Regions from separate parts of the Homo sapiens genome. Here regions 1, 2 and 4 are each linked to region 3. Evidence: fine-mapped expression QTL. A gene starts in region 3. Each other region holds a variant in brackets. All regions are shown on one strand. Distances are from middle to middle. Region 1 has its middle 12 kb from the start of KILH. Region 2 overlaps GCLC (glutamate-cysteine ligase catalytic subunit). Region 3 holds the start of GCLC (glutamate-cysteine ligase catalytic subunit). Region 4 overlaps KLHL31 (kelch like family member 31).

The links. PIP is the estimated chance that this variant, and not a neighbour inherited with it, causes the effect.
Region 1: its variant is fine-mapped to the expression of GCLC in whole blood (TOPMed, PIP above 0.99). The same link has a PIP of 0.9 or more in blood mononuclear cells.
Region 2: its variant is fine-mapped to the expression of GCLC in whole blood (INTERVAL, PIP 0.97).
Region 4: its variant is fine-mapped to the expression of GCLC in whole blood (TOPMed, PIP above 0.99).

The regions. Positions count from the first base shown.
Region 1 is chr6:53,581,180-53,589,323 of GRCh38, reverse strand. No RefSeq gene overlaps it. Among named protein-coding and RNA genes, the nearest start is that of KILH, 12 kb to the right of the region's middle. The variant G/A (reference allele first, on the strand shown) is at 4,858.
Region 2 is chr6:53,501,313-53,509,312 of GRCh38, reverse strand. It overlaps GCLC (glutamate-cysteine ligase catalytic subunit), which reads left to right. Exons shown (of 16, transcript NM_001498.4): 7 at 63-137; 8 at 602-718; 9 at 1,695-1,833; 10 at 2,288-2,400; 11 at 3,418-3,510; 12 at 3,817-3,921. It overlaps GCLC-AS1 (GCLC antisense RNA 1), which reads right to left. Exons shown (of 5, transcript NR_183318.1): 4 at 2,879-3,159; 5 at 2,402-2,515. Among named protein-coding and RNA genes, the nearest start is that of GCLC, 40 kb to the left of the region's middle. The variant A/G (reference allele first, on the strand shown) is at 4,004.
Region 3 is chr6:53,541,007-53,549,122 of GRCh38, reverse strand. It overlaps GCLC (glutamate-cysteine ligase catalytic subunit), which reads left to right and starts at 4,022. Exons shown (of 16, transcript NM_001498.4): 1 at 4,022-4,627. The coding sequence starts at 4,478. RefSeq lists silencers at 752-981, 4,049-4,478 and enhancers at 4,699-4,758, 4,597-5,338, 6,277-6,914.
Region 4 is chr6:53,642,977-53,651,120 of GRCh38, reverse strand. It overlaps KLHL31 (kelch like family member 31), which reads left to right. Exons shown (of 3, transcript NM_001003760.5): 3 at 1-3,205. Among named protein-coding and RNA genes, the nearest start is that of LINC01564, 19 kb to the right of the region's middle. RefSeq lists an enhancer at 7,356-7,650. The variant C/T (reference allele first, on the strand shown) is at 3,477.

The DNA.
Region 1 (8,144 bases), 40 kb before region 3:
TTATCTGCCACCCATATGCAAATAACTTGTAATCTTCCCTGAGCTTGACCTCTCTCTTGAGTTACAGGGTCATAATTTTAACTGCCTATTAAATATCCATCTATTTGTCCCACAGGCCTCTCCAACTTAACAGGCATAAAATCAAACTCATCATCTCCCCACTCTCATATTCTGCTGCGACTCTTATTTCTCGATGTCTCATCTCTAAGTCCACTGACTACCAAGCTGTTTAAACCAAATCTTGGAGACACACCAGGTTCTTTCCTTTCACTCATTGCTCTGTGCCATTATATGAGCACAGGATCCCTCCAAAGGCAGAGCCTGACACAAAGGTTTGCTTGTACTCAGTTTATTTGGGGAAGGGATCCCAAGGAACAGATGAGGGAACTTGGGGAAAGAGCCAATCCCCGGATACATAATCAAGATAGTCACTGCTGCAGGCAACCAGGAGCTCTGAGGAGCTGTGTAAAATGCCACTGAGAATTATCCTTCTGAAGCATAGAGGAAGGAGATATGCATAATACACATTCATATTATACCCTGGCTCCCATCCCCCAGGTCAGATTGCCCCCTGGAGTGTTATTCTTTTGCACTTCAAGTGTGTGCATCTGTCACAATGTCTCAGTGGGTTTCTGAGGACACCCACACAGCAAGAACAGAGAAGTAACAGAACAGCGTGAGATATGCGGTGCATCTGAGGCATTACCAGGACGTATCTGCACCTGTTGATGCCAAGTGAAATGTAAAAGGTGCCCCATATACCCACCAATCACAAACACTTATTCATACAGTTCACACATGCTCTCGTTTGTAGCCCTCATGTGCCTCTCAAATTGTACCCTCATCTTCTGTGGGCCTGACTGCCACGCAGTACCTAGTAAACATTAAAAAACATTTGACTCTCGGCCGGGCACGGTGGCTCACACCTGTAATCCGAGCACTTTGGAAGCCGAGGTGGGAGGATCACCTGAGGTCAGGAGTTGGAGACCCACCTGACCAACATGGTGAAACCACATCTCTACTAAAAATACAAAAAAATTAGCCAGGCATGGTGGTGCATGCCTGTAGTCCCAGCTACTTGGGAGGCTGAGGCAGGAGAATTGTTTGAACCCGGGAGGTGAAGGTAGCAGTGAGCCGAGATGGCACCACTGCAATCCAGCCTGGGTGACAGAGTGAGACTCTGTCTCAAAAAAAAAAAAAAAAAAATTGACTATAGAGAAATGCCCTCAACCCATCTTTTTCCTGGGTCCAGAATATTAGCAATATCTACACATAGAGATTTTCACAAGTGGTCCTCCTGATTTTAATTATCTTTTTGAGATTAAAAAAGGAAAAATGCTAAAAATAAACATGTGCTTTTCAGAGTAAAAAAAAAATAAAACTGCAAACCATGAGGAGTCACCAAACAGTTGCGACTGTGATCTTTTATTTTACAAAATTATAATTTTTCAGTGCATGCTAGACAGTTTGGGGTGAAACATGCCAAGCAAATTTGGAGGTTAAAAACTCTGGCAGACTGGAAAAATATTTTCAAGACTATACAAAAATTTAGAAAACAAACATTTGATTTTCAACATAGACAATTCAAAACTAAAACTATAAAGAAAACAAATCATTTTTTGCTATTTACATGATTGCTACATGCTATAAGGTAGATATTAAGCTCTATAAAGTAAATGGAGAAATTGGGCTCTTGAAAGTAAATGGAGAAATTAAGCTCTAGAAATTACTATAGGTGTGGCTGGATAATATTTTTAAACACAGTTTCACATGCACCCACTCACATTTCCATGCTCTCCTTGCCCTTTCAGATTAAGTCATCCAGGGCATTGTTCTTTAAAGCTTCAGGGCAGGTAACACCTGGCAAAGTGAAAATAACAATGGAATCAAATGTTTGGCATTTCAGTTTTGAAAGGCTGGGCCTTAGCTTAGAGACACATGATTTGGGAGCGTGCATTTTCTGAAATGGAGAAGGAGAAAGATGGAGAAGGAGAAAGATGGAGAAGAAAACTGTGTGATTAGAATACTTGAGAATTGAGAAGAGTATAGTGCTGCCCTGTCCGATATGTCAGCCACTAGCCATGTGTGGCTAAGCACTTGAAAATGATTAGTCCAAGATGAGGTGGACTGAAAGTGTAAATTACACATCAGATTTCAAAGACTTAGTAAGAAAAAAAAGTAAAATCTCTCATTAATTTTTACATAATTATATAAAGAAATCATAATAATTTGGATATATTGGGTTAAATAAAATATACTGTTAAAACTAATTTCACCTGGCCTGTTTCTTTTTTTTCTCTTCTTTTCTTTTTTCAAGATGAGGTCTTGCTGTGTTGCCCAGGCTGGGACTTGAATTCCTGGGCTTAAGTGATCCTCCCCTCTCAGCCTCCCAAGTAGCTGGGACTCCAAGTGTGTGCCACTGCCCTGGCTCCTTTTTAATTTTTTTCTAATGTGGTCATTTAAGACAGCCATATTGACATAATCTAGATACATCAAAGAGAGAAAATATTTTAAAACAAAAAGTAATTACTTTGGAAGAATAAAAGCCAATTACAATTACCACAATAAAGAAAAATAACATTATTATCTAAAATATTGTTACAGTCTAAATATATAATTAGAGTGAAGAACACATACAATAATTTCATTAGTGAAATGTTCAGATTAATTTGCTACAAGAAATAGATAACTTGAAAACAACTCTGGCTGGGCACGGTGGCTTATGCCTGTAATCCCAGCATTTTGGGAGGCCGAGGTGGGAGGATCACTTGAGCTCAGGAGTTCAAGACCAACCTGTGCAACATGGTGAAACTGCATCTCCACAAAACATACAAAAATTAGCCAGGGGTGGTGGCACATACCTGTAGTCCCAGCTACTTGGGAGACTGAGGTGGGAGGATCATTTGAGCCTGGGAGATTTGGTCTTTGGAGGAGATTGCAATAAGCCAGGATCACACCATTGCATTCCAGCCTGGGCAACAGAATGAGATCCCTGTCTAAAAAAAAAAAAGAAAAGACAAAGAAAGAGAAATAAATAAATAAATAAATAAATAAATAAATAAAGAGAGAGAAAGGAAAAACAACCCTAACATTTAATTAAATTCAGCACAACTATGAGGGTGATGTGTGCCGGGGCCAGTGGTAGTTGCTGGAGCTTTAAAGTTGAGAAAATCCCATGTGGTCTGCCTCCCGGAGAAAAGCACACATTTCAGAAAACAGTGATGGAGGAAATCCCTGGAGGTGCTGGAGGGGGTGGGTTTCCAGACCTGAGACATCAGAGAAAGCTTCTCAGAAAATGGATCATGTAACCTGGACCCTGAAAGAATAATTAGAGTTAGTCAAGCCAAATAGGGGAGGGAGGGGAGAAGAGTATTCCAGACAAAAGGAACTACATATTCAAATGCTGAGAGGTGAAGAGAACACTGATGAACCAAAAGAAATTAGGTTGGCTAGATGACAAAGTTTGGAAGAAATTAGATTGGAGAGTTAGGCACATTATGAATCATTCCCCTAATTTAAATCGTGAACTGTATGGGTGTTTATACAAAGGGAAGTGGAAAGAAATTAAAGAGTTTTAACAGAAGGGACGTTCATAACCAGATTTGCATTCTAAGGTCTTTCTGACAGCTGTGTGGAAAATGGAGGGGAAGTGGCAAGGCCGGGGCAAGTGCTCCAGTTACAAAGCTGCTTCATAATCTAGGCAAGAGAAGAGGATGGCTCGGGGCTGGGTAACATGGTAATGTGGCTGTGCGGATGAGGAGAACTGGATTTAAACAAGAACTATTCATGGGGATAGAACTGGTGGGACATATGAATGAACTGGAGATGGAAGAACTCAAGGATGATGCCTGGGTTTCTCTCTTGGGTAACTAGGTAAACAGCCATGTCAGACACTGCAGATGGGATACAAAAAGAGCTGAGGGAGCAAAAAGCAGTGTGCGGGTGGGGGAAGCGGAGGTTTCAATCTTCAGTTTTGGACATACTGAGATTGAGGTAGGTGCCTGAGAGATATCCAAGAGATGTTTTTCAGTAGATGGCTGGATTTCTGATGGTCAGGAGAGTGACTTCAATTGGAGACATTGCTTTGGAAGAGATGAATACATACAAGATAATCAAAGCTATGCAAGGGAGGAGATTGCACAGGAAGAGTGTGTAGAGGAAGAAGAGGAAAAGGCCCAGGACCTAAGCTGAAGGAACATCAATATTTAAAGATGGGGAGATACAAAAGAGCCCTCAACAGACACTGTAGAATGGTCAGAGTAACAGGAAAAAGAGCAGAAGATAGTGGTATAGCAGAAGCAAAGGGAGTAACGTTCTTCAAGAAGGGAGTGATCAACAATGTCACATGCTGCTAAGAGGTTAAAATAGAAATTGAGAAGTATCCATTGGATTTAGCAATACCAGGTTCTTTGTGGCCTTGGTGAGAAGGTTTCATTAGCATGGGAGAGCAGAAACCAGATTACAATGGGTTGAGGAGTGGCAAGTGAGAGAGAGACAGCACAGAGACAACTGCTGCATCCAATGGATTTACAGCCAAGGACTATAATTATGGCTTCCTAGAATATATCCCTTGGAGCCGTTGCATAGCAGGAATGAGTGACTGAGAGATGAGTGGATGGTGGATAGAACTCAGAGTGGTAATTTTTATATTTAAAAAGTAGCCTGTTGTTGAACTGAAAAGCAGTAAATACCAACCACTCCTTAAGCAAATGCTGACTGATAGTGTACTAGGCAGAGCAAGACTAAAAGCTGGGAGAATCGGCTGATCTTTCATCCAGCTACTAACCGAAAATTTTACCCCTCGCCCAACTTCAACTTCACGCTGTGCACCAGAGATAATAAAAAATAAAGATCTCT[G/A]TCAACTAATTCATTTAAATCCTTAGGTAAAAATTCAATAGAACCGACAGCCAGCTGCAAGAAATGTTACATTTTAAGACTCTATTTTTACTTTCTGAAATCATCCTAATCCAGTAGTCACAGCAGGTTAAATTAAGTTTTAAAAAATTTTAAGATAACTAAAAATTCTATATAACAATAGAATATATATATTCTGTATAACAATGCACCCCAAAATGTAGTGACTTAAAGCATGTATTATTGTCCTTGGTTCTGTGGATTGGAAAGAATCCAACACCTACTTTCCAATGGGTAGTTCTTTCGGTCTGGGCCTGCACAGCTGCTGGCTGCTGGCTCACTCACACATCTGTATGGTAGCTGGTGGTTCAGCTGGAGTTGGATGGGCTAAGAGAGCCTCCGACTTAGGTTTGGTGGCTGGTGTTTGTTAGTTGGAGTAACAGGGATGGCATGACCCTGTGTCTCTCTTCATCCAGAGGCTCATTCACATGGTTATCTCAAGGCTCGAAGAGCAGCAAGACAGCAAGCCCCAACAATGCACAAGCACCTTTCAAGCCTCTACTTGCAGTGCATTTATTTGTTAATAATGTCCCATTGGCCAATCAAGTCACATGACCAAGCCCAAATTCACCAGGTGGAGAAATAGAATTCACCTCATGATGGGAAGACCACAAATTCACATTGCATAGGGTATCCATAAAGAGATGAGATAATTTGTGTCTAATTTTACAATCGATCACAACTATTTTTTGCTTAAAAATACTTATTAGGAACTTCCTCCTAATTTAAACTTAGTGGAACCATAAACGTAATGAGTCATACATTTGCCACATGTTCACGAAATAAGACTCTTACTTCTTTTTTGTCTTCAAAAGTGGCACTAAATCACAATAAAGGAAGGGTATTCTGAGGACTTTGAGCTCCTTAAGGGGCTGTCTCTTTTCTGTATCCCCAACACTATGGTAACTTTATTTGAATGAATGAATGATTTATTACCTGTATCAGTCCTTTCTTGCATTGCCATAAAGAAATACCTGAGACTGGGTAATTTATAAGAAAAGTGGTTTAATTGGCTCATGGCTCTGCAGGCTGTACAGGAAGCATGGCGGCGTCTGCTTCTGGGGAGGCCTCAAGGAACTTTTACTCATGGTGGAAGGCAAAGTAGGAGCAGGTATGGATTAGTGGAGAGAAATCATGGAGAAATAGTAAGAGTAAGGGAGAGGATAAATACTTAGTGACTTACATTTTGGTGGTGACTAAGACTAATAGGCATCCCAGTCTATATAAAAATATCTTGATAATAGCTTAACATTGAAGGCTTTAATGGAAGGTGAAACAGAAACTACATGAGTTTCTCTGAATGACGGGTGGAGATTGAGTGTAAGGAAGTGCTTCTTGAACCTAAGTATACCTTAGAATCTCCTGAAGAACTTTTATAAAATACAGGTATCCTGGCCTCATTCCCAACCAATTAAATCAGAATCAGTGGGAACAGACCTGAGCACTGGTAATTTTTGGCAGTTGTATTCTCTTTAAAATCCCCAGGTGCAGTCAGTACTGAGAAATATTGGTATATGGCAGTGATTCTCAGAGTTGATCCCTGGACTAGTAGTGTCACTATGAGTTGGGGACTTGTTAGGAAACACATTATCAAGGCTTGCCCCAGATTTACTGAATCAGAAACTCTGGAGGTGGAGCCCAGCAATCCCTGTTTTAACAAACTCTCTGGGTGATTATGATGCATGTTAAAGTTTAAGAACCACTGGTATATGGTGGGGGTGGGAGCACAGGGGGAGTAGCTACACTGTATCTATAAGTATCCTTCATGGTCAGCAGAAGTTTCCTTCCCATCAGCATTTTATGAGAATTCTTACTGCGTCTCACCAAATTCTTTTTACATATGATTTATAGCAGAATTAGAGGCATAAAAGACAGGGGGAAAAATAAACAACATTATCTTACTTAAAACTGAACATTTTTCATATGTTTGTAATTAACATAAAACTTGCGTGCTACAGTTCAAATTGATTTCCTTGATTTTAACCTGAAATGAAAATGGAGATCAGCCAGTTACCATTCTGTGGAGAGACAAACACACTGAACAATTGCAAAAAGGATAACAAATAGTTCATCCAGCCTGCTTTTAGAAAAATCACAGAATAAAGGTAGTGTTTCAGTTACCAACTTTCAACCCAGTAATAGGAACATATGCAATGATATTTGATCATAGTCTCTATTTTTATTTTTAAAAACAGGAAAGAAAACAGAAACAAAATTTAAAAAAGAAAGAGAACCACTCTAAAAAAAAAGTTGAGAAAAAGAAAACTAATAAGAGGAAATTCCTCAAACTAAGCAAGTTTAAATATTGGCAGTATGTGGAGTAAAACACACACAAAAATGTGGTGTATACTTCCTGAAAATGTCAGCTGTTAAATGAAAGGAATCATGTTTCTGTATTTTCTTAAATAGAACTTGGCATATTCGAGGTGGTCCATAAGTTTTAAATAATAACAATTTGCTCTCCAATCTGGCCTCATTTAGCTTCCTTTTTCACTGTAACATCTCGACATTCTTCCAGTGCTTAGTTTGTAGAATTCACTGCAAAAAAAAAAAAAAAGAAAGAAAAGAAAAGAAAAGGCTAAGAATAAACATATGTAAGAAAAAAAAGAGGCAAAATAAAAGAGCAGCTTCTTCAAGCTTGGGCTCAACTAACAAATAAATCATTTATACTTAAAAAAAAAATCTTCTCACTTCAACATACAAACTATTAATCCAGATCTCCATTATTGCTTACTTAAACTAGTAACAGGGTTTCCTTCCTCCTTTTATTGCACTCTGCTGAAAGATTAATCTTCTCACAGCAAAACTCAAAAACTTTCAGTAACCTATCCCCCACTGCTGGCCCCTGAAGTACAGACAAGATCAGGCACAGGCCACAGATGCCCTGGGGAATCAGCCCTAGAAAAAAACTGTGAGAAACTCCTGGAGACACTAAAGGCCATCATAAACTTTGGGTGGGGAGGAATGCAGAGTTAGAATAATAGGTAGAGTGCTGCTAGGTTCTGCTCTCCTTTTCTCTCCTCTTTCCTTTGGACCATTGCCTGTCCCATAACCACTGTGAGTCAGGAGGCAGCAGCAATCACCCACGCTAAAAAGGGGAGGCTGACCAGCTTCCCTGAGCACTCACTCCTCCAGTCCTCCTCATGTGTGGTAAATGGTGCATCACTTATGAGATGACTACCGGCTCCCTTTCAAAGGCTTTAGAGGAGAATCCCTAGCAGAGTAATGCC
Region 2 (8,000 bases), 40 kb after region 3:
TCACTGCTTGGGGAGCATGCTAATGATTCCTTGGTGTTAATAACTTTGCAATTCTTAAACAGGTGACATTCCAAGCCTGCAGTATATCTGAGGCCAGATACCTTTATGATCAGTTGGCTACTATCTGTCCAATTGTTGTAAGTAGAAATTACCTCTTATTTTAAATACTACTTCGTATGAAATAAGATAGCATGTGCAGAATTTACTGACAGTGTGCTATTTAAGTCCAGTTAAGACCTCAGTCAGAGATGGACTAATATAAATAGTATGTAGGTTTAGGTATAATGAACTGAGAGTCTACACTGTAGAAGTTTACTCTTGCTAGTACAACATTGATTTGTTAAATGTGAAGTTTGAATGTGGCCATTTTCCCTCCCCCATACTTCATGTCCTCACATTAGAGAGAGGATGATTTAAGTGAATCAAACCCAAGGAACTGGATTCTTCCTGGTATATTTCACTGTAAGATAGGCACAGGTACATGTGCTCTGTATGGGTTGCATAAACATGCTTTTTGATCAGAAATATAACTGCATGGAGCTTTTTTTAGCATGTAAGTGACACTTTGAATTTGCAGGAGCTGACTTTTGTTTGTTTTTAGATGGCTTTGAGTGCTGCATCTCCCTTTTACCGAGGCTATGTGTCAGACATTGATTGTCGCTGGGGAGTGATTTCTGCATCTGTAGATGATAGAACTCGGGAGGAGCGAGGACTGGAGGTGGGAATTGTTTTTCCTTAATAGCCCTTTTAAGTCAAGCAGGTAAAATGGATCTTTTGTAACTACTTGCAATTTCAGGATGTCTCCCTGCAATTTTTATCTGAAATGGGGAAAAAGATTTGGTCTAGGTGGGGAGTTAATTTTTATCGTATGTTGATGTCTGTATTTGTTTTAGCTTCATTTAAAATTAGTAGTCCGATTTTTCTATATTTTGGAAGTGCTGATGGCTGTTTTTACCAAAAGGCTTTTTGGTGCCACATGAGTGTTTTGTATATGGTGCTTTCTGCTGTGGAAAGTATAATTTGTTGTCAGAGATTCTTTTTCCATGTAAAAGGTTAGGCATTGACTAATAAGGGTGAGATGGCACCTCTTGTTTGCATGTTGAACTGTAAAGTAACCCTTGCATCTCTCCAACAAGGGGTGTGCATCAGAACCACCCATGGAAATCTTTGAAAATAGACACCCAGACCCTATCCTAGACCTACTAAATAAGAATCTCTAGGATGGGACCCGAACAAGGGTGTTTTTAAAGGAGCCCTCATAAGTGGTTTTGATATTCTCAACCAGGGCTATACTACTACTGCTCTGGTCTTCATGTAATTGTTCATAAATTGTTGAACATGCTTTCTAAGTAGAAATAAACTTTAAAGGATAATTATTTTGATAGGTTTATCTTACGTTATAGATTTATTTATTTATTTGCTTTTAACCTTAGTATTTATTTTCCCTAGCTTAATAAGAATGAAAGTGATCTGCTTTTAAAAGATAAAAGTATATTTAAATCATACCAGAAAAAAAGGGTATTTAAATTGCCTTCAGATTTTAAAAAACATAATTTTCCTTAATAATACTTTTTAGGGCTCACTAACTTTTTTTCTGTATCTTATGTTGAGGTTTTTATATAATTATCATATATAAAAATATATTCCACTCATTTTATATAGCATATTCATTTATATATATTTTTAATCTTTAGCCATTGAAGAACAATAACTATAGGATCAGTAAATCCCGATATGACTCAATAGACAGCTATTTATCTAAGTGTGGTGAGAAATATAATGACATCGACTTGACGATAGATAAAGAGATCTACGAACAGCTGTTGCAGGAAGGTGGGTTTCTACTCCATCTTTCTGGGTTTGAATGTACGCCTTTAGTTCTTCAAAGCTCTTTTACACTTTTTTGCTGACTCCTGGTCTGGTTTCTATTTTTAGTGCAAAGTCTTTAACTTCTCTCATGAGGCTACTTGTTCCTAAAGTTTCAGGTTCCAAATACTTGTGAGATTTTCTTGATTTTTAGCAAAAGGAGCTTACTTTGGAGGTCTGTGTCTAGGTCCACACCAGTGCCCCAGCAGGCATTGTGTAAGTAGTGAATAAAACGCTGACACTCCCGCAGTGTCCGCAGGATAAAATACTGGGTGAGGTGAGGATACTAATCAAACCAGCTATTTCAAGCTTCTAGACACCCTTTCTTCAAACTTCCTGAGCTATCCTGTCGTCTTTCTGGACTAAGAGGAAGTGGTATCTCTCGCTTTGCAGTGAGTTCCCATGTGATCTCTTTTTGCAGGCATTGATCATCTCCTGGCCCAGCATGTTGCTCATCTCTTTATTAGAGACCCACTGACACTGTTTGAAGAGAAAATACACCTGGATGATGCTAATGAGTCTGACCATTTTGAGGTATCTTCTCAGTTTTATTTTTATTTATTTATGTATTGACTTCTGAGAGTCTGGAATCCTCTGTTTTATATGCATTTCACTTCACAAACCAACATGGGGAGGCAGTTTTCTGTACCTGTGGAGAACACAAAAGAAATTTCATAAGACTTTCATTTACCCAGTGCAGTAAAGAACTTGGACAAATAAAAAATCGGTTTCAAGTACTCTTATTTTACGATTCTTACTGTTTATCTCACTGATTCTAATTTTTTTTTTTATTGTTCAGTATTTTCTTATTTGCCTAGTGGTGAAAAATTCAAACATACACTGCACAAAAAATAACCTGATCAGTTATTTCAGTGCTTCAGACATATCACCTTTTTTTTTTGTAGATAGACTTCTCATAGATTTATTTCTGTGTCATGTTATATGTAGACATTGACATATATACCTTTTGAAATACCATCTATATCCCCTTTCTTTCCCCCACCAAACTCACAAAAGGAGATATAAATCCTTCCAGTCTTGCCATCGGGTCCCAAGATGGTCAGGACGGAGAAAGAACTCTCTCTCAGTGTATTGAGAAACAGCTACCCTTCTTAGGCTCTTGGGTCATCGAAGCAGCAGCATTCCCAGGAGAGGAGGAAGAAAGGAAACAACTGTCATGTGACAGGGTTCTCAGATGAAAGTGTCCAGTGTCACCTGGAAAGGCAGGCTGGCTCCTAAAATTCTCAGGGATGAAGGTGGGGGCCCCGTGGCTCTTCAGATGCTGCTCTGTAGCTGGGAGATAGGGAGTAGGAGCTGGGTGAGATTAAGCTTGCAGTGATAGGGCCTCATAGCTTTTGTTAAACACTTGGCTGTTTTGTTTTCCTAAAAGAGCACACTCGAAGAAAATCTTCAATTGTACCTTTTTGTCTTTGTCAATTGAAATTTGGTATGGACAGTGAGCAGTCTTCTTCCTTAATTAAATACCAGATCATCTTAATATTTTCCTGGATGTGTGAAAAGTTGGTTTTCTTCTCTGCTTTTGTATCACAGAATATTCAGTCCACAAATTGGCAGACAATGAGATTTAAGCCCCCTCCTCCAAACTCAGACATTGGATGGAGAGTAGAATTTCGACCCATGGAGGTAAGACACATGCATCAGCAAGAACTGACTCAAAAGTACTCTTTCGCCAGCTGTTCATCACCCTTCTGATGCTGCTATGAGAAGGCTCTTATATATAAAATAAAAATTAAGTATGTGCATGGTAGCAAGTCAGTCCAAGTTAAGGAGGGTTGATTTCTGAGAATAGATGTGGGCAAAGGGCTTCCAGACCCAGATGGGGAATTAGGAGATGGCTTGGGAATGACATGATCTGAGGAAGGGCCTGGGTCAGGGAAGAGCATGTTTGTGTAGTTGGTTCATAACTTCTCTGGGCTTCTGCTTGTCTAGGTGCAATTAACAGACTTTGAGAACTCTGCCTATGTGGTGTTTGTGGTACTGCTCACCAGAGTGATCCTTTCCTACAAATTGGATTTTCTCATTCCACTGTCAAAGGTAAGGATATGTTTCTTTATGGTGATGGGTATAGATCTATCTGTAGATATATTTATTTATATATGCTATTTATTTCCCACCT[A/G]ATTTCATTTGAAATTGTTTACCCTTTGCAATAAAATGTTTCTCCATCAGCCCTATTCTTTATTTTCTTTTAAACCTAAGCTTAATTTCTAGACGCTTTCCATTCAAGATGATTGATGGCTAGAAGTAGTCCTACACATTGATTTCATCCACCACAAAATCCCAGGTTGATTACAATGTTAAATTAGGATGGGGAGGGAAAGTGTAACTGCTGGAATGCCGGTAAAAGTCTCCTCAGTAGAACTGAACTTGAGATATTTCTGAAGAATTCGGATGGGATTGAACTCTCAGAAAAACAAATTGGAGTTAATCTGCCCCCCAAAAGACCAAAAAACAAGCTTTCTGGGAGGAGTTTGCCAGCAAAACAACTCCAGGTGATGAGGGAGCAGAGCTGTGGGTTGTGGAGCAGTAGCTGAGGAGGTGAACGCCTTTGGTTTCTGGGCCAGGGTTCCTCTTGGCAGAGAGTGGCTGGGAAAAACTGCTAAATAGAGAGGGCCCTGCCGCAGGGGTTCCTGGTTGAGGGTTTCGGGGCCAGAGAATGGAGAAGTAGGGTAGCCCTGTCACAGCAAACATGGAAGCAAGAATGAAACTGCTTAGCTCCAGCATCTGCCCCTGGGGCATCTCCTTCCTCCATGAGGGGTTTGCCAGACTGTGCTCATCCCCACACCCCCTGAAGGAAATCTGGCTGTCAGCCCATCCCTGCCTGCTCCTCACACCCAGACCAAAGGTCACCCACAGAACTCTGTGGGCCCACATTGCCCTCATGCCTACCTACTGGGGAGACCAAATCCATCTAAGAGAGATTCCATGTAAGCTACCAGTCTAAGCCTTTGCTTATAAATAAGAATAGATGCTTGGAAGGCAACAGAAAATTGAGAACAATTAACAGCCTTAAAGAGAAGGGCCTACTGGTCTTGCAAGGGCATACTCTGTAAAGTCAAACTTAGTTACTTCAAGGAAGTAAGCTGGGCCCAGCGCAAATCTATAATCTCTGCTCCTCAGGAGGCTGAGGCAGGAGGATTGCTTGAATCCAGGAATTCTAGTGCAGCCCCGACAACATTGCCAGATCCCATCTCTTGAAAAAAAAAAGCAACTGGAAAGAATTACTATTTTTTAAAAAATACTTTTAAACCTTTTTTAGAGACAGGGTCTCACTATGTTGCTCAGGCTGGTCTCGAACTCCTGGGCTGAAATGATCGTCCTCCTGCTGCCTCAGCCTTCCAGGTAGCTGGAATTACAGACACAAACCACCATGCTCAGCTTTGGAAAGAGTTCTTAAAGGAATTCTAATTAGTGGCCTCAGACAAATTCTAGAGAGGTTCAGTCACATCCATAAAACAAGTATTATAGATTGTGCTTATTTAATGGTGAGTATTCTCACCAGTAGAGCAGATGTTGAATATCCAAGGTAGTGATTTAAAAGACCAAATGAAGATTAATCCCAGCAGGATGGTGAAGAAATGGAAATTATGGAAATCCTGAAGCATGGAAAGCTCTGGAAAATTCAATGTTTGTGTAATAATTTAGAAGAGGAGAATAGTTTATATAGGAAAGATATACAATAATCAAAGAAATAATAGAATTTTTCCTTAATAAGTCTTCCTTAAGGATGAGACAAATATTTAACTCAAATGTAGGCATTTATTAATCTCAAAGAGAAAATTAACTGTCCGGACAGGAGAAAAAATTAGGAGACATGAAAAGGGGGGAAAATCAACTGATATTACTTTTCATTTGCAACATTAAATGCTAGATGGAAAGAAGTTTTCAGAATCTCGAGAGGTAAAGAATTAACAACCACAGAATTATCTTCTCAGCCAAATTATTCTTTAAATTTCAGGTGATTCTAACAAAACTGAATGGATCAAGTTAGGGCTAAAAGTATGCCAGAAGTCTTATCTAGTGTCTTGGTTTGTTTGGGCTGCTGTAACAAAAATACCTTACAGTGGGTGGCTTATAAACAACAGGAATGTATTGCTCACAGTTCTGGAGGCTGGGAAGTTCACGATCAAGTCACCGGCAGTTTCGGTGTGTGGTGAGAGCTTTTGCTCTCTGGTTCATACATGGTGCCTTCTTGCTGTGTTCTTACATGGTGGAAGGAGCTAACTAGCTCTTCAGATGTCTCTTCGTAATACCAGTTATGAGGGTAGGGCCTTCATGACCTCCCAAAGGAGGTCCTCCCAATTGCCTCCCAAAGGCCCTACTTTCTAATACTGTCACAATGGGCATTAGGCGTCAGTGTATGAATTTAAGGGAACACAGACATTCAGACCATAGCACCTTGTAAGGGGATATGGAAGGAGATGAATGGTAGATACTCATTAGTGCTTGACACTTAGAGAGTTATAATTTCAAAACTACCTCTTTAAGGAAAACTATTAATAGTATAGAAACAGGATTTATTACTTTTAAACTTGCTGGCGAAAGGGTGGCAAAATGAACCACAAATACATTTCAGTGCCACAAAATTGGGTGTGGGGCCAGGGGAGTGATGAAACAATAGCCCATAGAACATAAAGTGGTGAAAATAAAATGAAAACAAATTTGAATAGACTAAACTCTATCCTATTAAACAGCTGAAACAGATAATATAAAATAGCAACACAGTTTGCATAAGATGTACGTAGAACAAGGACAGATGCCGACAAGAGCTGCATAGTGACCTTTTGGAATGATAGCAGGAATGGCAAAGCAATATCAGGCAAAATGTGAGGTAGAAATTATTAAATGGGATAGAGAAAGCAGTTTTATATATTCTTCCAAGATGATGTGAAAGCTGTGGTCCTTTTTGTACCATGAAATGTAACATGAAAAGAGTTTAGTGTGATGGGTAATACATGGCTTTGATGTGAGAACTAAATGCATAAATCCCTGGTACTATTTACTAGGCTTTTAACCTGGACAAGTGACTTATTCTCAGTGCCTCAGTTTCCCACATGTATCCCAGAGGGGAATAAGTAGGCTGTTGTAAGCCCGTGTGGGGATTAATGGAGGTAAACCACTTAACAGAGTACCTTGCATGTTACTCAGTAACTGACAGGCCATATAATCAAAGGATGGGAAAGGCCATGGGGGAATTAAAGGCATGGTTAATAAGCTTGGTTGTATGCGTATATTACGTATCTCATACCACATCTTTTTTCAAATGCCATGAGTAAGATTTACAAAAATTAAAGAAAATCTTCACTTCTCAAAAGTAGACATAATACAGCATGCGTTCCCGCTAAAATTCAACGAAAGAGATACTCTGGAGAAATTTAACATTGGAAATTAAAAATGTCTTTCCAAGTAGATTTTAGATTAACCAAAACTAGAATTACAGATTGTGTAGGAAAGTGAAAGACATGCTGGCAGAGCTGATGTCTAAGGAAAAATTATAGCTTTAAATGTCTTAACAAAAAGATTTTAAATCTAAGTCATTGAGTATCTAAAGAGCAAAGTAAAATATACTTTGAAAGGAAGTCATCAAAGCACAAATTATAAGTGGTCGTTATGAACTTTTTTCAAGACTAAGGAAAAAAGAAACAAATATTAATAATGAAAGCAGATGTTCACAGCCATGGTGGAATGTATACTATTTATTTGAGTATGCTCCTAGAGTATCTAGATTCTTCAGAAGGTCCTGTGTGTCTCTTAAAAAATGAAACCATAACAATCGCACTCCCTGCATAATGAATATGGGAGGAGACTTGGTAATCAAGAGAGCTTATGTACCATCTGTCCCATGTCAGCCTGGCCCTCTAACTGGTCACTGTTGTATATATTGAGGTCCCACATAAGATTTCATTATAGAAAATAAGGGATTACTACTAAAACGTTTTTTAAATTCTGCTTTGAGAGTCTTAAAAAGTCATTGGAGATACAGAGAATTCACAAATAAAACAGTTTTCGGTTTCATGAGTGAGTCTACATGTCCGGAGGCACCAGATGGGTAAAACAGCAGTGATCTTCTGCCCTTGGGAGGGCTGTAACCTTATTCCAGATATGACAACCTATGA
Region 3 (8,116 bases):
GTCTCTACTAAAAATACAAAAAATTAGCCGGGCATAGTGGCGGGCGCCTGTAGTCCCAGCTACTTGGGAGGCTGAGGCAGGAGAATGGCGTGAACCCGGGAGGCGGAGCTTGCAGTGAGCCGAGATCCCGCCACTGCACTCCAGCCTGGGCGACAGAGCGAGACTCCATCTCAAAAAAAAAAAAAAAAGAAAGAAATTTAACAGACAAAAAGCTTAAGGACTTCACAGGCAGATCCGCGGGTTTTGGGGAAAGGGTGTGTCAAGGGAGAAGAAAGGATGTAATGAAGGTTGGCATCAAGTCCCAGGAAGAATCACACTGAAGGCAGCCACCAGCTTCACCCAGGCTAAGTGGTGTAGTAGACAGCTTTGAAATATCACTGGAGTTCAAACCCCAGCTTAGCCACTACCTGTTACTTAGTATTACTGGATCTCAGTTGCCTCACTTATAAAATGTGGCAAAGATTAGTACTGTTTTACGGATACCAGCTCAAAGTGCCTGGCATAGAATGTGATATACTGGGACCCAAGCGACAGACCACCAAGGTCAAGGGATACTCAAGCCAAAGAGAGCGGTAAAGGCAGGGGCAGATAACCTAGAAGTGCCTTCCTCAGAGTCCCCTGGGCACTCTCTCTGTTTTCCTTATTTGATCTCGCGAAGCCGCTGACTCAAGGGAAACTGGGAATGGCGTGACCACAGAGAAAATGATGTATTTTTTGGTCCTTGGAGGCCCGAAACCCATCGTGTCTGAAACGACTGCGGCAATCCTAGCAGCAGCAGCAGCCCAGAGGTCAGGAGTGATGGACTGAGACTTTGCCCTAAGAAGCCTCCCCCAGATTGACCTCCGGCTCGGAGCCCGCACAAAGCGCTGAGTCACGGGGAGGCGGTGCCGCGCGCGGGGGAGGCGGGCCCGCGCAGTCACGTGGCGGGGGCTGTATCACAACAACTGCGCGGCGTGCGCCGCCCGCGGCCCACACCGCTTCCTCCCGCGACAGGCCGGCTCTCCGAGCATGCTCAGCTTGGCCTCACGACTGCACGGCGTCCCCCCATGCGGATCTCCACGGTCCAGGTTTTCCGGACGGCTCTGGGGGCGGGGCCTGTGTTGGTCCGCGGGGCTGCGAGGCGAGGTTGCGGTGCCAGGGCGCCGCTGGGCAGAGATGGGTTCCTGGAGAGCGGGTCTCGCGTTTTTCCGCGGAAGACACTACTGGGAATCGGCCTTTGGTCATGGTCTAGGGAAGAGCTGATTCTGCAAGATATGAGCTCCTTCTTTCCCCTTCAGCTATCGTTACAGCCCTGATGGAGCTGTCTGCTGAAAACTCACTTCCAGATGTCGAAACCTGGCCCTGGGTGCAGTCTACAGAATGAAATCGAGCAGTAGTGGACCTATGCAGGCAAAGCATTGTCAGAGGGGAGTAACTCTTGTTAAATATGACTTCAGTTGATCCGTGATGGGATTTTTGTTTTTTCTTTGTAACAGAAAAGGCTAAAGACACTGAGAGATCAAGGTTTAAATTGGGCATAACTGCCCTGTGGTGCAGCAGCGCCGGCGCCCTTTTTGGGATTGTCCAAAGCTCTGGGACCCCCGCTGGGGGAGCTGGTTCAGAATTCGGGGGGGTAGGATAGGGTGAGGGAGGTCCCTTATGTGAGTGTGAGCCGGGATCTAGGACAGAGTAACTCCAATTACAGTGTTAAACTCTTACTAGGTTCAGTGTCGCGTAGGGCTTTGGCTAGACTAGAATTTAGTCTATTATTGAACCGCCCAGGTCCATGATTCCTAACAGGTGCATGGGAAAAGTGTATGGTGTGCAGCAGGTGTATGGGAAAACTGCTTTGCAAAGTGTAAATCAAGGTCTACATCAGTACTGTTTCAATAAAGTGGAATGAGAGCCACATATGTAATCTTAAATTTTTCAGTAGCCTCCTTTAAAATTAAAAATAAAAGTGGGTGGGGGTGGTGGTAAATTAAATAACATACCACATCATATTTAACTCAAAATTTCCAAAATGCTATATCGCTATGTAATCAATATAAAACTTTTAATGAGATATTTACATCTTTTTATTCTACTGTCTTAGAATCTGGTGTGTGACTTACACTCACAACACATCTGGGCCACTAAGTTTTCATTGGAAATACTTGATCTGTAATTACATTTCATAAAATTTACAGTCAAAAATGGATTCACATTTCCAACTTGTTTCAAATTTACTTAAAAGTTTTCCAGTAACTGAATGGAATATCAGTTTTTAAATTTACATTTAAATTGATTAAATTAAAATGAAAATTTGGTTTCTCGGTCATGTTAGCCACATTTCAAATGTACATTGGCCAATGTGGCTGATGGCTGTCGTGTTGAACAATGCAGGTCTATGAGAATGTCAGATGACATTATGAGAATAACCCAATGATCCTTGGATGTCTTACCTACATGGGAAACACTGTTTCTCCCCCTCTCCCACTACCTGCTTTTCACGGAGAAGCTAACATTTATTAAGCACACACTCTATACCAAGCACTTTTCTAGAATTAAAGGTACAAAAGGCATAAGTCATCTGTGCCCCAGAGGAATTCACTATTTAGTGTGGAGCTATCTTTAAAATGACTCTATCATTAATGTACGAATGCAACCAAAACACAGAGAGGAATAACTGTGACTCAAGAGATGAACATGAGTGTGTCAGATGGAGAATTTCAAGCAGGAAAAACAACAGAGTGCCAGAACCATATACAGATCTGGTGAGGTTGGTGGGAGGGCAAAGGAGGTTGTTGAAAAGGCTGTGGAAAAATTAGAATGTGGTTTGATTTCTATCCCACCTGTGTGATGAGGATGGAAACATCTTCTCCTGAGCTTCAAACATCCCTACCACACACAGACACACACACACAGACACACAGACACACACACACACCATTGTGGAAATCCCAGCCAGACCTTGGGTATTCATGCCCCCAAGCCCTGTGAGGGGCACATCCAATATGAAGGCTGTGGGAGAAGAGAATCCTGCTATCATGTACTCACTCATTTAGCAATTAATAAGTGCTTACTAAATGTTAACTCTGTAGTGCGAGGGAAGAGGGTATGATAAATACACACTTTCTGGGTAGGTACATGTATGATCTAGTTGCCTTCACTTTTCCCCTGACAGGTCATTGCTCTGTCAACACATATTTATTAAACAATCACTTGGGGGCACGGTACCTCCTTCCTCTCCTTTCCCTCCGAGATAAGGCCAACTCTAGGTGTTCCCACTATCTTCAACCCCACCCCACGGTAGGCTCACAAGAACGTCATTTTGATCACTTAAGGGATGAATTTTAGGTTTAGATGGAGGATAAACTTTTGGAGATGGTTCCTCATATGGTCTGTCTGGAGACTTTTTGCAATAAATGGTGTCCGTGCCATCCAGAGAACATAGGTCACCAGTTAATCAAGACAGTAGGGAATAATGATTTACACATGTTGACAAATTGATTCCTCTTAATAACCAGGTCAATTTTTTGGCCAACACTATACACATGTACACTATGCACATAATTACGACATCTATAAAAGATAGAATTAATCTAATTTTATGCAGATATGGGAAGAACTCGTCCCAAGTCTCACAGTCAGTAAGTGATGGAGCCTAGAGTTGAACTGTTTCACTTCACTACCATGTTAATACTTTTCTCAACACATTCTGCCGCTCTCACTCTAAGTGTGAGGCCCTGTCCAACTAAAACATAATATGGTGAGTTCGTCATTGATTCAAATAATCAACTTTCTTCCCGAATCCCAAGTTTATCTCTTCTGATTAGGAAAAAAAATGCATTTTGATATGTCGCGTTTGCGTAAAGCGAGGCCGACCGCACGCCCCCTTCTCGCGAGCTGCTCCCCTCAACTGCGACCCAATCACCCTTGCACACGCCTCCTGAGCCCCCGCGGTTCCCACCGGGCTTCAGGCCACGCCTCCGCCGCTGCACCGCCTCCTCTCCCCGCCTTCGCCCGTAGTCTATAAAACCTGGAGCGCAGGATCGCGCCCAGGAGCGGCGAGCTAGCGGACGCAAAGACTGGGCATGCTCCGCGGCGGCGCAGGTTTTGGTCACAAGTAGGAAGAAGCCAGTGCACCAGACCGGCAAAGAGAAGCGGGAGCCGCCGCGGCAGCGCGGCCGTGGGGTCCGCCGCCGCCGCATCGGAGCGGGAGGAGGAGCAGCGGGGAGGGCGAGGCCGCCGGGCCGAGAGCCGTCCCGCCTGCTCTCGGTCTTCTGCCTTCGCCTCCGCGCGGTGCGTCGGACCCAGGGTCTGTCACCTGGGCGCCAGGGGCCGCCGCCGGGGAGCCGGAGCGGGCAGGACCCTCCCTCCGCCGACTGCGGCCCGAGAGCGCCCCCGCGGGGTGGAGCGGCAGCCGCCTTCTGCGGGCGGCTGAGTGTCCGTCTCGCGCCCGGAGCGGGCGACCGCCGTCAGCCCGGAGGAGGAGGAGGAGGAGGAGGGGGCGGCCATGGGGCTGCTGTCCCAGGGCTCGCCGCTGAGCTGGGAGGAAACCAAGCGCCATGCCGACCACGTGCGGCGGCACGGGATCCTCCAGTTCCTGCACATCTACCACGCCGTCAAGGACCGGCACAAGGACGTTCTCAAGTGGGGCGATGAGGTGAGCGCCCGCGGTCCCCGTCCCCGCCGGGCACCCGTGTCTGGCCGCCCGCGCTGCCTTTGTCTTGCCCTACGCCCCCGGCCCTATCGCGGTCCGCGTTCTCCACTGCGCCCGGGGGTCCTCGAGCGCCTCCCGGCCCCGGGAGCATCGTCCCTGCTTTCGCCTAGTCCGCGTCCAGGGCCATCCTCCTGACTAGACTCCTTTCTTGTTCATTCATTCTTTTGGGTTTTCCCCTTCATTCCATAAACACGGATTGGGCGCTGGGAGGGCGTGAGCATGAAAAAGTGACATTAGGTGCTGCGAGTCTTCAACCTAGTGTATCTGCAGACCGGCAACTACCATGATCCACCTTACAGGCTCAAAATTCGCTTTTGCGGTCAATATGAAAGAGATTTAAGTTTTCCTAGTAGGCCTGCTGCTTTTAGAAATCAGGTCTTCAGGATGTCCACTTCTGCCCTACCTCATGCAGGTGTCTTTTCCTTAAACCTCTCCAACTTCTCATCTTCCCTCCCCTCCAAAACACACACACTTCATAGCTATAAATTGAAACCAGTAAATTACGGCTCAGTTTCCTACATGGGGGAGGAACCTTCCCTTTCCTGTTTAATTCTAAGTGGGAATGCATTTAGAGTTTCAACATTAGGATTTGCTTGTGTCTTTCCATGGCCTAGGTCCAGCAACTAAACTTTACAAACCAGTGTTCTGCCTAGAGATGAAATGTCTCTAGATTCTCAGTAGGTTGAACCATTGTTTATTGGAATGATCTGGAATGCAGCAATGTTAAAACTGTTGATTTAGTGTCATCTGCCAAAACTTTTTGTGCCTTCCCTTTCTGTTTTTGAAAATTACGTGTGTATGCAGTACACATTAAATGACTTCTTGAGAAGTCCATCTCTGTTTTTGTTTTTAGCTTTTGCCTTAGATGGCTTGCCACCTGTGTAAATTGTTTATCTTTTGGCCAGTGTTGTTATCAATCTTGGCCTAAGTGCTGACGTGCTGTTACACCAGTGCAGAATATCTCCTTTCAAAAAGTTAGTTTTTTTTTTTTTTCTAAGATTGGGATTCTACCTCCTACAGCTGAAGAAATTGTGCTGTTTTAAATTAGGAAAGTATGATGACTAGTAATTCACATTTCTACAAAAAGTGGTTTGTCACACTTCTTTGAACAGAAAAAGCACAGCATGTGTTTTGGTGATGATTCTTCAGTTTTACTGTAAAGTTCATAGTTTCTTTACAGCATCTGCCATTTTGTATATTCATTTTTGTATTGTGTGTCACAGGAAAATGTAAGACGAAATTGGGCAGGGACATTATGCTTGTTCACCTCTGTTTTCCTAGAGCCCAGCCTTGTGCCTGGTGTAGTTGGCATCAGGTCCTTGTGGCATGAATGAGTGAATGAACTACTATTTCAAGTTCCCACTGTATGGTAACTAGTCATTGTAGAGCAGTTCAAAGTTTGACATTTTTTTGTGCTGCTCTTTTTTTTTGAGACAGAATCTTGCTCTGTCGCCCAGGCTGGAGTGCAATGGTGTGATCTCGGCTCACTGCAACCTCAGCCTCCCGGGTTCAAGCAATTCTCCTGCCTCAGCCTCCTGAGTAGCTGGGATTACAGGTGCCTGCCACCACGCCCAGCTAATTTTTGTATTTTTAGTAGAGATAGGGTTTCACCATGTTGGTCAGGGTGATCTCAAACTCCTGACTTTTCACCCGCCTCGGCTTCCCAAAGTGCTGGGATTACAGGCATGAGCCAATGTGCCGGGCCCTGTGCTGCTTTTGACATTTAACTAGGTCTCTCTACAAAGACAGGCAGTTCAAGTCTTTGGTAGTCATTGTCCCAGGTAGAACTACATCAACAGGAAATTTGCAGCACAGTTGGAGCTCAGCAACTCCTTCTGGAGACAACACCCCACCCCCCACCACCCCTTATCCATCTTTGTCCCATTTGGTGTATTCCTGCAAGACACTCCAGGAATCCTTAATCTTACCCTTTTAAAAAAGGCCTCTCCTGTTGGCAGGAAGAGCATTTAGAACTACCTATTTTAAGTAACTTTTGTAGTTGTTGGGTAAATTGAAGTGGGAAGAGCTGAAGAGTAGAGCCTTGAAGTACGTGTCTCTGCTTTAACAGGCTTTCATGGAGAGATTTGCAATAGGTTTACCTCCTTCCCACTCCAAAAGATCAAGGGGCTTGGAAAAGAGTGGCCATAATGCAAACTTGTATTATGCATCTATAAAGGAGAGAAAATTGGACCCAGCATTTCAGCCAGGTCATAACACTTCTTGAAAAAATTACGCTGAGCAGATCTGTGGAGAATTAGACTTTGGTATTGTATTAAGACTCTAATAATGGCTGGGCGTGGTGGCCCGTAATCCCAACACTTTGGAAGGCCCAGGCAGGAGGATTGCTTGAGCCCAGGAGTTGAAGGCCAGCCTGGGCAATATAGCGAGACCCCATCTCTACCAAAAATAAAAAATTAGTGGCATGTGCCTGTGGCCCCAACTACTCGGGAGGCTGAGATAGAAGGATCGCTTAAGCCTGGGAGTTTGAGGCTGCAGTGAGCCGTGATTGTTCAACTGCACTCTAGTCTGGGTGACAGTGAGACCCTAGCCCCCTACCCCAAAAAAAGATTTGATAACACTGCTCTTACCTTAAAATGTGTAAATGATGTTCACTGAAAACTTTCTTTAGTGACTGTTAAGACTATACCTTCACATTTCTTGTTCCAAATACTCTGTCATAAATTAAATACAAAGCTATAAATTGATTTTTTAAACCTCATTTGAAATGCTGCTTTTACCAGCATTTTACTGTTTTATGATCTATCCTTTCTGTTTCCCTAGACTATTTTGTTTTCCACAAGTTCCTTTGTTCCCCCACCGCCCCCCCACCCTACTAACATATTAATGTCTTTTGGAGTGGGGAGTAAACAAACTGAGGTGGAAAACTCATCTTAGAAGAAAAGCATAACCCGCTGCTCATTTTTTATTATTTTAAATTTGCTTCAGTTATGTCTCTGGGTGGAGTATAGAATTTTTGAGAAGAATAACATTCCTGCCCTGAAGTGTTGACAGTTGCCCGACACAAAGGAAAGAATTAAGATTGTGAAGACTGCCTAGGTGATTAAAGAAAAAGAAGCCCCACTCTACTTTTTCCTCCTGCCATGGCACTTCAGTGAAACCTTGGTCTCCCCCGCGCTTGTTCTACCTCCCGCCCTTGATCTGGGATGCAGATACTAATTCTCCATTGTGGTACCTCTCTACATTTCTTTTTTTCTTTTTTTTGAGACGGAGTCTCGCTCTTGTCACCCAGGCTGGAGTGCATGACGTGATCTCGGCTCACCGCAACCTCCGCCTCCCAGAGTTCAAGTGATTCTCCTGCCTCAGCCTCCTGAGTAGCTAGGATTATAAGGCACCCAACACCATGCCCGGCTAATTTTTGTATTTTTAGTAGAATCGGGGTTTCACCATGTTGGCCAGGCTGGTCTCGAACTC
Region 4 (8,144 bases), 100 kb before region 3:
TCTCCATAAAGACTTAAGATTTAATTCTGTATTTCAACGCAATTTTCCCCCCATATGTGATTGAGTAAAGGATTTTGAAAGATATCCCATGACAACGTAATAAAGCTTAAAACAAGATCTGACCGAAAAGGAATAGGGATTCCACCCAGGGACCCTAAATTTGATAACCTTTGTGTTAGCGGACATTCCTCTTCCTCCATGCCTCAGGCCCCAGTTTATTTTCTACCATAAAATCATGCTCTCAATGAAGTAATTGATATGAATCATTTAATTTATAGCATAAATTTAAGTCATTTGGTTGTTTCAACTAGAAGGATTTGCATTTTATCCCTTGTCCTCTATTAAAGAAGAATTTCACATACCCTGGGAGCCTTACCCTCACCCTAAAAACTACACCAACCTGGTTAAAGGCAACCTTGGCCCTAATGTACACCCCGCGAAGATCACCAAATAAAACTATGTCCCTAAGGACCATTAGCCTTAAGCTTAGAGAGCTTGAAGTTTACACAACCAATAACAATAATTTTATTTGCCCCAATCTTTTATATGATAAGAATGATAGAAACATTTGGAATTTGTAGATTTGGTAGTAACTGGATGAATGGGTTCTCCTGTTGATAAATGCCATTGTTTCCCATTTAATATGGATCCTCCTGATTTCTTAAGTAAAAATCAAGCACTCATCTCACGTATATAAAAATATATACTCATTCTGTCCTATTTTTATTAATCTCATCTGCTCCAAATGAGCTTTGGATTTATAATCAAAGTGTACCCACTTGATAGCACTTTTCCTATATGTTTGCCAAGTTTTGGGGAAAGGGAATGACTGTAGTAAATGATACATATTTTCCTTTTTTATAATTTATCACTTTATTCTTTGACAGTTTATTTGTTTTGGAGAGGAAGTGGCCTATCAATTATGGGTTATGTGCAATTGGATTTTGAAAAATAAAACAAGCTATTTAGGAATTGAACATGAGATATATGGAAATATAATTTGGTTTTTGTTAATCTCATCCTCTCCACCTTGTGTAGATAGGTTATTGCTAGTTATGATATTTATTTCTAAAATATGTTATTTGAACTGTGAAAAGTGGTTCATATAGTACACTTTGTGGAACAATTTTATATCATTACCCCGATGAAAAGTTCAATCTCTGGATATTTAATGATAACACTCAGGTAAGGGCTACAAACGCTGTAAATTAAGAACAAGATATTATTAATGTAAAAGCGCTGGGCTGTTTCCTTATCCCACACAAAGAATCTTTTACCTTGGTATATGTGGATATGGTATATTACCTTGGTGTATGTATATGTGTGTATACGCACACACTCATACAACTGAGAAGCCTATAGTATATGGTTAATTTTTGGAGAAAAGGGTGTTTTATTGTGGGTTACAGATCATAAGTGAGTGAATAGATGTAATTCCTTGATGCACACCAATAGATGTGTTCCCATTGACATCTTAGAAGTATTGTATGAAGAGGAGGACCTAGGGCTTGAAATGAAATGAGAATCAATCAATTGCAACATTACATGATGGAATAATGAGAAGAGATACTGAAACTAGAGGATTTTTCATCTATCAAAGCTTGATAAATTAGGTTGTGCAAAAACTTGGCAGTGGCTTTCTAGAGATGAAACTGGAGACATGTTAGTGCTGGATAAATCATTTAAAATTACCATTTAATTTATTTTCTACATTGTTTATCTGAAGACTCAGAAAATCCACATATTTGAGCTTACCAGACTCTTGGGTGCATTGCTGTTCTATCTTCTGCTTCAACAGTTAGGAAAATAAAGACCAATATGAATTTGGAATGTCAGAATTTCTGACATAACACATTGGCGAGGAGTATGGAATGTAAGGGTCGGTGAAAGTTTCATATCCTGGAACATCTTGCATTGCCAATTGAAAGACATAAAAGTATGCAGAATCAAAATAATATGTGTCCACTTTCATGTGTAAGTGAAACATATTCTTTACACCAACTATTGAAGCAGTTGCTCCTAGAAACCTAGTTTCTCCAGATTTCCCAAGTGGAAAATATTTAGTATGTTTTAAGCTTACATTCAATTACTCCAGAGTCTTAGGACCCAACCATATACTTCCTTTTATTTTTTATTAAAGAAAATGACTTGTTATTTTTGTAACGGCTGAGTCCTGTGATCAAATAAAAGCATCAGTTCAATATATCAGGGAAATTGCATGTTACCCAGCAACTGAAATAATAAAATTCAAGCTCTCTTTTTCTAAATGGGCCAGAGACCTGATGAGAAAGTCTCCAGGAAGCCAAACTTTAACATACTTTGTCCATTTTTAGTTAGGTTCTTGGTGCCAAGTTGTCATCCCTGATGCATTAGTTGCTTTCAGTGCATTGAATGAATTTTATTTTTACTTCCTATGTTGTAAGAATGGTTTTGAATAGAAGGTCAGTGATGGTACAGATTCGTATAATTTTAAAACATGATTAGATGGTAGTGAAGTGTTATGAGTGAGGAGGTATAATTGATGTCATGAGGAAGTGAGTACTGAATGGTTCTATGATTTAAGGTAAAGCAGCAGTTGTAGTAAGTGTATTTTACAAATACACATGTAAATAGAGGTTTACCTGGAAATATGTACGTTCTAAAAGGTCAATTTTTTAATTTTATTTTTTTGCTGGTTATCCTGGCCAAGTGTCTTCAGAACTCATCCAAGTTACGAGACGAAATAAACTAAAATCACCTCATTAATTTTTTTCCCTTAGTTACAACCAAATGAATTTATGTAATCTCTGAATGAACTACATCCCTATTCCAGCCGCTGATGAATATGTTCTCCAGCACAAGGCAGCATTAAAAGGAAATACTTTTCAGTATTTCTTTTCATGCCAAAAAACCTACAGAATAATTTTCCAAACAGTCCTTTATTCGTAATTATAAGAATTAAACAATCTAAAATATTAAAGATTTACCCTCCAGCACATTCACTGGGTAAAGACCATTTAATTTGCCCTCTCAGGGAATTTGAAATAAATTATTTGTCCTGGATATTCTTTAAAAACTTTTTATTTATTCAGCAAATTTTGGCAAAAAAATTTCTTTCTTTGCTTAAAACATTCTGGTACTATATAAGGAACAACAAACTAAAATGTATGTAGTGTTATTTTGTAATCTCATCACTATCAATAAAGCTGCATTCAATAAGACCTTAGTCAATGACTAAATATGGACAGTTTTGAAATATCCTTTCTCTGATGATTGGGGTGTTTGTTTTTTTCTCTACTTAGTTTTCGTGATGATTCACCTAGACAAAACAACAGCAAATGACAAGTAATTGAAAAAATGTTTCAACAGCTTGAAGACTAGTGAAAGAAAAAGGTATAAAACATCAGTAGAGACTTGCTTTGTAACTCAAAGAAAAGCCCAACTCTGGTCTAGCTCAGCCCCGACTATTTAGAAGTCGTAGGTTAAGTGTGGTTTCT[C/T]TTCCTGTTTCCACCCTGACCACAGCCAGCTTGTCACAGGTTCATCATCATTTGCAACAAAACGTTTTAGGAAATAAAATCGCATTGTTGTGTAGACAATCCCTTATAGCCTTTCTCTTCTACCTTACCCCTCCAAATGAGCAAGTAAAATGTAACCAACATAAGATGCTCAACCTTTGATCTAATGTAGTACTTAAATAATAACATTCAGTTGAGGCCATCAAATCTAGGAAATTCTAAATGGCAGCAATGCTTTTCTTAAACTTCTCCAAGCCCTGTAATCATATAAATAGACTAGATAGCCTCAAACACAAAACAACTGGTGCCACAGTCCAAATTTTGAGCAGACCAGCCAGATGCCTCAGAGTTTCTTTGCATTTTCTTTAAACTCCCACATTACTCCAAGCTTCCCTACAGATTTGTACAGCCTCCCACAACAATCTTGGGGATGTCTCCACTCTCAATTACAGTGGGAAACTAGGCAGGATCTTTTTTCGCTAGGCCAGGTATAGACATGATGTATGCCCTCTCCAGGCTTCAGCACTGTGCTGAATTCTGTCTACATCTCTTTGGCCAGAACAGCCATCTGGCCTACTTAGATGAAAGGGAGCTAAGAAAAAGGTCTTCATGTCCAGGAGGAAAAGTAAAGTTTTCATATAGCATTGTCTCTGCACAATGAATGGCTAGTCATCTTCATACCTGGTTACCAAAGGAGCAAAGAGCTTCCCAGTCAAACTGCCTCCCCTCAGCCACACTGCTCTGGCCCTGATCACACCATAACAATGCTCTTCTCTCCCTTTCCTGGGTCACAAGACATGTACTCAGCTCCCCTATTATACCTTGCCTTTTTTCTTCTGAAGAACAAGCCCAGACAACTCTTGTAGCCTTTTCTCAATTCAGTGCCCTTACAGGTCAAGAGCATGTATTAAATGTATTCTGCCAGCCTTGAGTGTTTGCACAAATCTGGTTCCCAACAGCCATCAAATAAACCCATTTAATGTTAAGAATTGCCCTCCTCACCCCTCCCTCCCTGGGTCTCCTTGTTCTTCTCTTTCTGGAATCGTCTTAATTCTTCTTGATCTAACCTCTTCTAAAAGAATGTTGAGTGAAAATGATACATCTGTGACTTAATTCCTGCCACTCTAGCCATACTAGCAGGTTCCCAATACATGACGATTTGGGGAGAAGAGAACACATGTAGAGTCTAAAAGAGGACATACACGCATCTGTTCTTAATCCCCATTAGCAGAAGAGTATTCCTGAAAGGAAGAGGGGGAAGGAAGCTAAATGGTGGTAATCTGTCTCTCAAGTTTTATTCTGCAATATTAATGAAACGTTTCCATTTTTTGCAGAGTTCCAAACTGAAAAATGCTTTATTTCATTACAATTCTGCATATAAGTAGCAAAGAAAATTCTGTATGCCAAAAGAATCCTTTGTTGTTTAACAAATGTTCATTAGACATAATTATTTCCCAGCCTCATGCCCCTGATCATATTCTGTCTTTCTCTGCCCTGCTCTGTGCTCCGTCCCCTAGGGACTACATCATCCAGACTCAGGCTCTTTGGCTGAACATTTTATTCATCCAACGGGAGGTATCAGAAGGAGGTCAGAGGGCAGAAGCAAGTGGTTGGGATATTTTTTTCTGCCCTCTTCAGGCTTCAGCACTGTGCTTCTGGCCTAGGCTGTAACTTTCAACAACTCCAGCCCAGTGGCCTTTCCTCCCTTGTTCAAATCTCGCCATGCTTACGTGCCATCATAGCTTACCATCTCTGGATATTTTCCTGTTGATTTATGTTCTGCCATCTCTTTTAGAATATCATCCTTAAAGGTGAAAATTTTGTCTCGTTCACAGATGTACCTCCGGTGTCTAGAGTCATGCCTGGTGTATAGCAGGAGATCAATTTTTTGTGTGTGAAGTAAATAAGTGAATGAGTGAATGAAACAATAAAACCATCATGACCTACTGCTTGCTGATCTCTATTCCAATATTACTCATTTATTTAATCAGCAAATACTTATTAAGCATCTACTGCATGCAAAACACTTTCCCTTACCCCAGTAATCACTAGAGGGAAGCACATTAAAGTACACAACCATGATAACTAGGACTTTTCCAAACTTGCTGCAAGCCAAAAATTAAATTGTTAAGACACATTACAGGTGGAAGGAGTTATGCAACCAACACTTTCCATTTCTCAAAAAAAAAAAACTCAAAAGATTGATATCTCTATAGCTATGTCCCCATTAAAATTTTTTAAATTGCATGCATCTTCTCTATAATTGCCAATTCTTCAAAAACAGGTTAGGACTAGCTTCATCATTTAGCTAGTAAGCATTTATTCAGTGCTTACTAAGTACACACACACACACACATCATTTAAGTGTGAGTGTGTGCATATATACATATATTCTGCGTGTGTGTGTGTGTGTGTAAAATATATGGTCTTATGCTTGCATTCTGAAATTAAGAGCCATTATGATTACATCACCTTGTCTCATATGAGAGCTAAATAAGTTAATAGGTAAAGTTCATTTCTTTAAATACTTCTCATGGGCAGCCATGTTTTCAGAGACACGGGGAAACCTGAGAAGGTAGAGCCTACACACAGATACCCAGGGGCCTTTTTCTGACTCAAAAATGAGAGATAAACAGGGACTCCTGGAAGCAGAACCCTTGCAGCCCAATCCCTGGTGCCCTTCGGAACCCCAGACCAGTCTCCATTGAAGGTGTTTCATTTCCCTCATGGGTAAAAATACTGAGGACAAGTCACTCAATGCAGAGTCCTTGGAGATGGACAGTGAATCTCTGGGCCTGAGTCTTCCAGAGACACTTGGAGCGCAGTAGTCCATTCTCATGCTGCTAATAAAGACATAACTGGGACTGAGTAGTTTATAAAGGAAAGAGGTTTAATTGACTCACACAGTTCAGCATGGCTGGGGAGGCCTCAGGAAACTTACAACCATGGCTGAAGGGGAAGCAAGTACATCCTTCTTCACATGGCGGCAGCAACAAGAAGTGCTGAGCAAAAGGGGGAAAAGCCCCTTATAAAACCATCAGATCTCGTGAGAACTCACTCACTATCACCAGAACTGCCCCCATCATTCAACTACCTCCCACCGGATCCTTCCCCCGGGGATTATGGGAACTACAATTCAAGATGAGATTTGGGTGAGGACATAACCAAGCCATATCAAGGAGAGTGAGATATTGCATAAAGAAATAAGGGGTGGCAAATTCAGCTGAAAGAAGGACCGGCTCCTGCTTTGGAGGCACTCCACAGAGCCACATTTCTGAAGATGGTGAGGTGTAATGGAGACTGATCCTGGGACAGCTTTGGGAGCCTGCTGGAGATGGCAGGGCCACAAATGGACAAACGGAAAGAGTTACTATTGGAGGGGAGCCTCCCCATGTGGGACTGCTTGTTTTGAACAGGGACAAACTAGCTCCACCGAAAATCCATGAAATGTTAAGGCATTGCCAATTTCCATCATTCCCCCTGAATTCTTAAATTAAAATCCCACTTGATAAATTAGTGCCTTTGATGAAGCCATCCAGTCCTCTGCCCCTGCCTGCCGGCACTGACCAAATACAAAAGAAAGAGGGAGTCTTGAGGGGAAGGAGAGCCCTGTGACCTCTGCAGGAAGATCAGGGTTCCAGGCTGCAGAAGAAAACTTTAAATCAAGGGAAGAATGACCTTGCCCAGGGCTTTAGGCACATGGGTCCTCCGCTGCAGCATGTGCCACTGTCACTCCCTGACATGCGCTATGCAGAGAACAGGTATTACACAGCACTGCTTTGATGTCTCCCAGGTTTAATGTAGGGCCAAATAGGGCCTAGAGTGGCCAGAGCTCACAGGCTGGTTCCTCTGGCTGTGGCCGGCCTTTTCCATTTTTCCCTAATGCATTGTACAAACATTATCTCTTTCCATTTGTGCAGTGGGTAGAGCAAAGTTACAGAGCACTACTTTATAAAGCCTGGCCTCCCCCTCTCCCAGCCCCACTGATGCCTTTTGCTTAGTCACATGTTTGGGTCAAAGACAGAACACTCAGCAAGGTTCAGTGTGGTTGGCTGTGGCTCACAGAATACAGGCAACCAGGGGCAGAGCTGCAGTACTCATTAAAACCGTGGAGAGCTTGCTGACTGCCTCAAAAATCAGCAGTCCTGAGTATCTGTGCCGTGCTCTGCTAGTGTCTGAATGCTAGAGAGAGCACTCTACTCTTTTTAGACTTCCCAGAGATTCTAGTATCTGCTGCTATGACTGTTTTTTGTTTGTTTTGTTTGTTTGTGACAGGGTCTCACTCTGTCACCCAGGCTCAAGTGCAGTAGTGCTATCCTCTGCTGACTGTGTCCTCAACCTCCAGGCTCAACTGAACCTCCCAAGTAGTTGGGACTATAGGTACATGCCACCATGCCTGGACTGTGACTGTTTTTATAATAAAGACCCAACATACTTTAAGGAGGGGAAAAGAGCTGGCCAAACGATTTTCTGCCTGGGTCACAGAATATGGTAAAGTCAGGGAGAACATAGACTTGATTTCACCAGACTAAGAAGCCTTCAAGTCATTCTCAGTGAACGCCAATCCTCTGATGTTACAAGCGCTGTGTTGGGTAGCACTTGATGAGAATCTGAGTAAGTCCATCTCTTCACTTGAGGGGACAGTAGACC